Linked DNA regions of Homo sapiens. The protein of the gene in region 1 purifies or fractionates together with the protein of each later gene. This does not show direct contact. Each region holds a gene or a part of one and is shown in the gene's direction. Other genes may lie near its edges. The genes, in order: TIMP4 and COL14A1.

Evidence for each region.
Region 2: the proteins of TIMP4 (region 1) and COL14A1 purify together in Homo sapiens (affinity purification with mass spectrometry; one large-scale study listed by BioGRID and IntAct). This does not show direct contact.

The regions. Positions count from the first base shown.
Region 1 is NC_000003.12:12,156,059-12,160,626, reverse strand, and holds the start of TIMP4 (metalloproteinase inhibitor 4 precursor), read left to right. Parts: upstream 1-1,714; 5' UTR 1,715-1,786; coding exon 1,787-1,925; intron 1,926-2,035; coding exon of another isoform or gene 2,036-2,137; exon of another isoform or gene 2,138-2,735; intron 2,736-3,144; coding exon 3,145-3,242; intron 3,243-3,692; coding exon 3,693-3,807; intron 3,808-4,568. UniProt on the Homo sapiens protein: Complexes with metalloproteinases (such as collagenases) and irreversibly inactivates them by binding to their catalytic zinc cofactor. Known to act on MMP-1, MMP-2, MMP-3, MMP-7 and MMP-9.
Region 2 is NC_000008.11:120,274,895-120,278,711, forward strand, and holds part of COL14A1 (collagen alpha-1(XIV) chain isoform 1 precursor), read left to right. Parts: intron 1-2,590; coding exon of another isoform or gene 2,591-2,605; exon of another isoform or gene 2,606-3,038; intron 3,039-3,216; coding exon 3,217-3,340; intron 3,341-3,540; coding exon 3,541-3,684; intron 3,685-3,817. UniProt on the Homo sapiens protein: Plays an adhesive role by integrating collagen bundles. It is probably associated with the surface of interstitial collagen fibrils via COL1.

The DNA.
Region 1 (4,568 bases):
TTCAAATAGTACATCAGCCTCTATCTTGGTCTGAACATTGTATGAAGAACCAGCCTGGATGCTAACCCGGGCATTTCATCTTTCAGTCAGACTCAGCTCTCTTTCAATTCCCTTCTTTTCAAATATCACTAACACCATCAAAATGAAAAGGTATCCTTTGAAGGAAATAATGTTGACCCTGATGAAAAGTCAGACTCCTATGGGAACTAAGATTTGAACAGATACTGGGGGTATCTGGCCTGAGGATCTCAGCATTCCTGGTTGAGGCCAGCCAAGGATGGGAAGAAGAACTTCAAAGGGCTTTAGAAATCACGTAGTTCAACTCTACTTTATGAAGAAAAAACTGAGGCCCAGAGAGGCAAAAGTCACAAAGCTACAGTGACAGTCAGAATTGGAACCCAGCCTCCCACTATCCAGTCCAGCACCATGTGGAAACATCCCACAGCAATAATCCCATGGAGATTTGGGATTTGGAGGCTTGCAACACTGTGCCCAAACAGCAGACAAGGCTCTGGTCACAGTCACCCCCAAGTCCCCTGCTTCTTTGTTTTTTCTTTTACTTTTTTTTTTTTTTTTTTTTTTTTGAGACGGAGTCTCACTCTGTCGCCCAGACTGGAGTGCAGTGGCACAGTCTCAGCTCACTTCAACCTCCGCCTCCTGGGTTCAAGCCATTCTCTTGCCTCAGCCTCCTGAGTACCTGGGACTACAGGTGTAGGCCACCACGCCCGGCTAACTTTTGTATTTTTAGTAGGGACGGAGTTTCATCATGATGGCTAGGGTGATCTCGAACTCCTGACCTCAGGTGATCAACCCGCCTTGGCTTCCCAAAGTGCTGAGATTACAGGCGTGAGCCACCACGCCCAGCCTGCTTCTTTGTTTTCTAAGCTGTCCCACCTTCTAGAACATGACAGAGTCTCCAGTGAGAAGGGACATGCAATAAAAATCAATGTAGTCTAGGGCCTCGAGAGGGCTTTGAGGTCCAAGGTTTGCCCTAAGTGATGGGACACTTTGTGTTTTGTACACCAAGAGCGCTGTCTCCAGCTATCTGGAGAGTCTGAGGCTCTGGGAGTGAGAAAGGGTTTCTAAAGCACTGGCTGCTTCTTTGACATCTCTCCCCACCCCCCAGGCAACAGAGCCAAGACACACACACCCCAACTTTCTCTGTCCTGTTCTATTACTGTTTGCTGTTGCTTTGGAGCCTCATAAATAGGGCATTGAAAGCACTTCCTGCAGCTGAAAGAAGCCCTGAGTAGCTCGTCTCATTCCCAGCGTGCAGCTCAGCAAGGGGTCCGTCCTTCTCTGTCACTGTCTCTTTTGCCTGTTGTAATTCTGTCTGCCTCTCTGGGACTCTGCCTGTCTCACTCTTTCTGTCTGTGCCTCTCCTCACTCTTGTTCTTTCTGCCTGAATCACAGCCCTCAGTTTTTCTGTCCTCATGCATTTGTCTTTGTGGCTCTTTCCGTCTTTCTGCCCTTGACACCATCCCCTCTCCCAGTGCTTCCCCTCTGCTTCCAGATCGCTTCATGACTTAGGCAGGGAAACAGAGGTCAGGGCCTCCTTCCAGGCTTCCCTCTGCATCTTACTGAGTATGCAGGTCGGAAGAGCCTCGGGTCCTGCCTCCGCGGGTGGCCTAGAGCCAAAGGAAGGCGGAGCCCGTCGGGGCGGGATTGGCCCTTAGGGCCACCTCATAAAGCCTGGGGCGAGGGGCACAACGGCCTTGGGAAGGAGCCCTGCTGGGGCCGTCCAGTCCCCCAGACCTCACAGGCTCAGTCGCGGATCTGCAGTGTCATGCCTGGGAGCCCTCGGCCCGCGCCAAGCTGGGTGCTGTTGCTGCGGCTGCTGGCGTTGCTGCGGCCCCCGGGGCTGGGTGAGGCATGCAGCTGCGCCCCGGCGCACCCTCAGCAGCACATCTGCCACTCGGCACTTGGTGAGTCCGAGGTCCGCGAGGTCCACAGCAGGGGGTGGTTGTGGGGGATTAGTATCTGGCCAGCAGTACACCAGGAGTCCAGAGGAAAAGGGAGGAGCTCAAATTCTTACCGGTTGTCTCTTGCTGAGGCTGATGGGTGGAGAAGGACCAGGCGCCATAGCAACCTTGCAAGCCCAGAACCTGACTGATTCATAAGGAAATGAAGATTTCATCAGGGACTTCCATAGCGACCTCCCTCACTCCGGCCATACTGCAATTATGGAGTGTCATTACACAAGGTGTCACCGGAGCTATCTGATGATTATTCTGAACTACTAGACTGGGGACAGAAAGGGGAGGGGAGAGGGCTTGCATTGTAACTACCCGTGTCTGTCCAGGCCTATAACTGAGGTTGCCACCAAGCCCCTATGGCAACACACACGTTCTGTCCTTTCTCTTCCCTCTGCCTGGAATGCCCTCCCTCACACCCTTAAATTCCTGGCAGACTCCTACTCATCCTTCAAGGGCTAACTTAGGTCTCTCCCCTTCTCTGCAGGCTCCCGGGCTCCTTGGTGCCGCCTCAGCATCTCTAACCGTCTTAGCGCTCCTACTATGCTGTGCTGTTGTTCTTTACACGTGTGCACTCCACTAGATCAAGAGCTCGGCAGGATGGGGACCCTGTCTTAATCACATCTATGGGCCTAGTGCCTAGTGCAAGGCCAGGCACAGAGGAAGAACATCATCAACAGTTTTTGGTTATTAATGCTCAAATGGCAAGAGATGCAATACCTCAGTGCAGGGTCAGAACATTTATGAATTCAATAAACATTTACTAATATCAACTGTAGGCGGGATGAGAGGCCTTGACCACAGCAATAGATAAACTTCACACCGACTGCCCTGAAGGGGCTCCTCCTCCCTTCTCTACTCTGACTCCTACCCTGTGCCCCACTGCACAAACGGCTATGGAGAACTAGAGCTCTCCAGACTAACTGGTTCAAAAGGCAGAAACAGCTTAGCGGTTATAGGACCTAATAAGCCTGAGGGGTTTGGAACTTCCAGTGACTGCAGGGGAGGTGTTTCCAGGTCCCCCTTCTCACACATCACGTTGCTCACAACCCAGCCACACCAAAACCAAGAACTGCCCTATAGACTTCTTCATGGACCCTGGATCATCCAGACCTCAGGTGTATTGCCCCCACCAGCTGCTGAAGGTTCCCTCTTTTCTCTTCCTATGCAGTGATTCGGGCCAAAATCTCCAGTGAGAAGGTAGTTCCGGCCAGTGCAGACCCTGCTGACACTGAAAAAATGCTCCGGTATGAAATCAAACAGATAAAGGTACATGGGGGCAGGCTGGGATGTGTAGCCCCTAAGGCTGATGGAGAAAGTGGAGTCTGTGTTCTGGGAGGGCTGGTAGCTTTCAGGTGGCCTGGCTCAGTAATCCTTGGGTCTAGATACTGAAGTGGAACTGGATGAGATTTGGAGGCAGAGCCCATAGAATCCCAGGGATATTGCCAGGGAGGGCCTCAGCATCCATCTGGTCCCACAGCTGCTGGTGTATGGTGCCACTACAGGTACCTACTGGAATAAACCAAGGTTTAGGTGTTTTTTGTTGTTGTTGTTTTGTTTTAAGAGAGAAAATAACCCAGTAGGGACATCTGAGGACACAAAATCCTCAACTAGACTTTTGCTTACATTTTTAGGCTGAGAAGTGAGAGGTTTTTGTCTGTTAATATATACAGTACACTCACTGACCCAATATTGCCTTTTTTTGTAATTGCCTGTCAGATGTTCAAAGGGTTTGAGAAAGTCAAGGATGTTCAGTATATCTATACGCCTTTTGACTCTTCCCTCTGTGGTGTGAAACTAGAAGCCAACAGCCAGAAGCAGTATCTCTTGACTGGTAAGTTAAAAGACCAACAACTGGCCTTAATATAATAGATTCTGCCCTAGGGGAGGTAGTGAGAAAGGAGCCAGGGTCTTCCTTGGGCAGTAGGCTGAGCCAGGTGGCATTTTCTTGGGCATAAAACAGAGCTGTGTTAGTGACAGACAACCTCTGGGTTAGGAGGAGCCTTGTAACCTCCCTTTAAATGTAAGAGTTCTTAGTACAGTGACCCTGGCCACCGTTTCACTATTTTAAGGACAGGCTGCTCACCCAGTGTAGGGCAGCTGCTTCCGTTTTTCAAATAGTTTAAATTAGTATAAGATTTTTGGCAACTTGAGTCGAAGTCTCCTCTCTAAAACTGCTCCTTGCAGGTCAACTCTGCCTTTTGCACAGGACTTAACAGGAGCTTGAGTCTAACATAGTTCTGTCTCTGTGAACTTGGGCCCAGGCAGGATTCCTCCATACTGAATTGGCTGGGATAGAACAGTTAAAGAATCACACAAAAATATGACTCCATAAATGAATGCAACATTAAATTATTTTGGAGTTCAGAGAACGGAACTATTTGGTAGTTGTGAACTATCAGGGAAGCTTCATTGTGTAGGTGGGATCTAAACTGGCCTGAAAACATAAAACAATATTTAGAAAGAAAGCAAGGGAAAGAAAAAGCACAGCAGTGGGGGAGGGAACAGGTGAAGGGATTCCACGATCTATCCACACATTCAGCAATGAATGACCACTTAGTCACTGCCATGCCTTGGCCAGGAGAGTGGAGATTC
Region 2 (3,817 bases), on another chromosome or scaffold:
TCTTATGAAAATGATCATATTTCCCAAAGCAATCTACAGATTCAATGCAATTCCTATACAAATATCAACATCGTTTTTCACAGAATTAGAAAAAAAATCCTGAAATTCATATGGAACCCAAAAAGAGCCCAAATAGCCAAAGCACTCCTAAACAAAAAGAAAAAAATCTGGAGGCATCACATTACCTGACTTCAAAGTATACTACAAGACCATAGTTACTAAAACAGCATGATACTGATATAAAAATAAGCACATAAACTAATGGAACAGAAGAGAGAACCCAGAAATAAAGTCAAATACATACAACCAACTGATCTTGGACAAAACATTCAAAAACATAAATTGGGGAAATGACACCCTATTTAATAAATGGCACTGGGAAAACTGGATAGCCACATGTAGAATGAAACTGGATCCCTACCTCTCACCTTATACAAAAATCAACTCAAGATGGATCAAAGCCTTAAATCTAAGACCTGAAATGATAAAAATTCTAGGAGATAACCTGCGAAAAACTCTTCTGGACATTGACCTGGCAAGGAATTTATGACTAAGACTCCAAAAGCAAATTCAACAAAAACAAAAATAAATAAATGGTACCTAATTAAACTAAAAACCTTCTGAACAGCTAATCATCAGAGTAAACAGAAAACACAAGAATGGGAGAAAATATTTGCAAACTATGCATCTGACAAAGAACTAATATCCAGAATCTACAAGAAACACACACAAATCAGCAAGAAAAAAACAAATATCTCATCAAAAAATGGGAAAATGGCATGAATAAACATTTCTCAAAAGAAGATACACAAATGGCCCACAAACATATGGAAAAATGCTCAACATCACTAATCATCATGGAAATGCAGATTAAAACCACAATGAGATACCTCCTTGCCCCTGTAAGAATGGCCATTATTATAAGTCAAAAAACAATAGATGTCGGTGTGGATGTGGTGAAAAGGAAATATTTATACACTGCTGGTGGGCATGTAATTTAGTATAACCTCTATGGAAAACAGTGTGGAGATTTCTTAAAGAACTAAAAGTAGATTTACCTTTGGTTCCAGCAATCCCAGTACTGGCTATCTACCCAAAGGAAAAGAAGTCATTATGTCAAAAGACACCAGTAAACATATGTTTATTTTAGCACAATTCACAAATGCAAAGATATAGAACCAACTTCAGTGCCTGTCATCCAATGAGTAAAGACAATGTTATATATATATGTAAAAAAATATATTATATATATATTTTACACAAACACACACCATGGAATACTACTCAGCCATAAAAAAGAACAAAGTAATGTACTTTGCAGCAGCTTGAATGGAGGCCATTATTCTAAGTGAAGTAATTCAGGAATGGAAAATCAAATACCGTATGTTCTCACTTTTAAGCGAGAGCTAAGCTGTAGCTACACAAAGGAACACAGGGTGGTATAATGGACTTGGAGACTCAGAGTGGGGAGGGTGGAAGGTGGATGAAGGATAAAAAAACTACATACTAGATAGAATGTACACTACTTGGGTGATGGGTGCACTAAAATCTCAAACCTTGCCACTATACAATTCAACCATGTAACCAAATACCCTTGTACTCCAAAAGTATTGTAAATAAAAATAGGTTCCCCACCCTGTGTCCAAGTGTTCTCATTGTTCAATTCCCACCTATGAGTGAGAACATGCAGTGTCTGGTTTTCTGTCCTTGTGATAGTTTGCTCAGAATGCTGGTTTCCAGTTTCATCCATGTCCCTTCAAAGGACATGAACTCATCCTTTTTTATGGCTGCATGGTGGGGGTAAGGGGGAGGGATAGCATTAGGAGATATACCTAATGTAAATGACGAGTTAATGGGTGCAGCACACCAACATGGCACATGTATACATATGTAACAAACCTTCACATTGTGCACAGGTACCCTAGAACTTAAAGTATAATAATAAAAAAAAATAAAATAAAATTAGGTTATTAAAAAAGAGGAGAATAGGTAACATGCTGAGGCATGTCAGAAAGAAGCAAGTTCCCTTTGAATTGCAGGAGACTTTATAAAAATGGTGACATGTCCAGTAGACTGATAAACTGGCAGCAGCTTAAGGCCCATTTAAACAAAGCTCTCGAAAGATGCTATCTTTACTTATTAAATCATAATTCTGAAAAACAAATAAAAAACAATTAAAAATGATCCAAAAGTTCCACAGGAATAAAAGCCAGTTGTAAGAACTGAAGCCAGAAAGCTTTGTATAGTAGTGGTTAAGAACATACATTTTGACCTAGAATAGACCTAACTTCAACTGTTGACTCTGCCAGTGACCACTCTTGTGATGTGCAAGTAACTTGTCTTTTGCAGCTCAGTTTCCTCAAGTGTAAAGTGAGTAGAATAGTAGTAATTACTTCATAGGTTTGCTTCATAAGGAAATCTTTGTAAAGAGTCTAACTCTGATTTTCGGACATTTGTCAAGTTACCAAGCTTAGGCTGCCATTTTTAAACTGTCAAATGAGGTGGCAAAAATCCTACAAGCTTGAAAGATTTTTAAAAAACTACTTTCTGAAAGTACTGAGAGACACATGCACTCCTATGTTCATTGCAGCACTATTCACAGTAACAAACATGGAATGCCCATCAATGGTGGACTGCGTAAAGAAAATGTGGTGAACATACAGCAAGAAATACTACGCAGCCATAAAAAAGAACAAAATCATGTTCTTTGCAGCAACACGGGTGCCTCTGGAAGCCATTATCTTGTGCAAATTAACACAGAAACATGAAACCAAATACTGCATGCTCTCACTTAGAAGTGGGAGCTAAACATCGAGTACACACGGACGTAAAGACGGGAACAATAGACACTAGGGGCTACTAGTAGGGGGAGAATAGAAGGAGGCTGAAGGTTGAAAAACTGCCTATTGGGAACTATGCTCACTACCTGGGGGACAGAATCATTTGTACACCACCTCTCAGTGACATGCCGTTTACCCATGTAACAAACCTACACAATGTACCCTCTGAATCTAAAATAAAATTTTTAAAAAAGAAAAGATGTATTTAATTTGTCTTCAAATTTGGTATGTAACTTGTATGAAAGAAATTTTAATCCAAGCAGATTTTGTAATGAGATAATGAAGAAATTAAAACTACAGGTGACACTGTGCTGTTGCTCTCTGACCCAGTGGAAGTCTACATATGTGTGAAAATGAATACACCTTCTCTCTCCAGGTTGCAATGGTTCAGTTCACTGATGATCCCAGAACAGAATTTAAACTAAATGCTTACAAAACCAAAGAGACTCTTCTTGATGCAATTAAACACATTTCATACAAAGGAGGAAATACAAAAACAGGTATGACCAAAAGAAGCCCAGCTAAGGCTCAAAGTAATTCATTATTTGTAACTACTGAAATGACCTTTTATTTTAAGGCATAGTAATTTTTTAAAGATTTTTTTTTTCATTAATTTAAGAACTTTGTTCCCACCCTTTCTTCTCCAGAAAAACAAAAATGGGAGGGAGTGAAATCAAACTGTTGCCTTTCTTTGTTTCAGGAAAAGCAATTAAGTATGTTCGAGATACCTTGTTCACTGCAGAGTCAGGTACAAGAAGGGGCATCCCAAAGGTTATCGTGGTTATAACTGATGGAAGATCACAAGATGATGTGAACAAAATCTCCAGGGAGATGCAATTAGATGGTAAGATATATAAACAATAGTGGCTACCAAATATGATGTTAGAATTGTTATTTTCTAAATACAAATTTATAGGCTATATCAGCATTACTTAAATGTTTTAAAATATTTCTTCATATTAACTAGACAGTGTAAT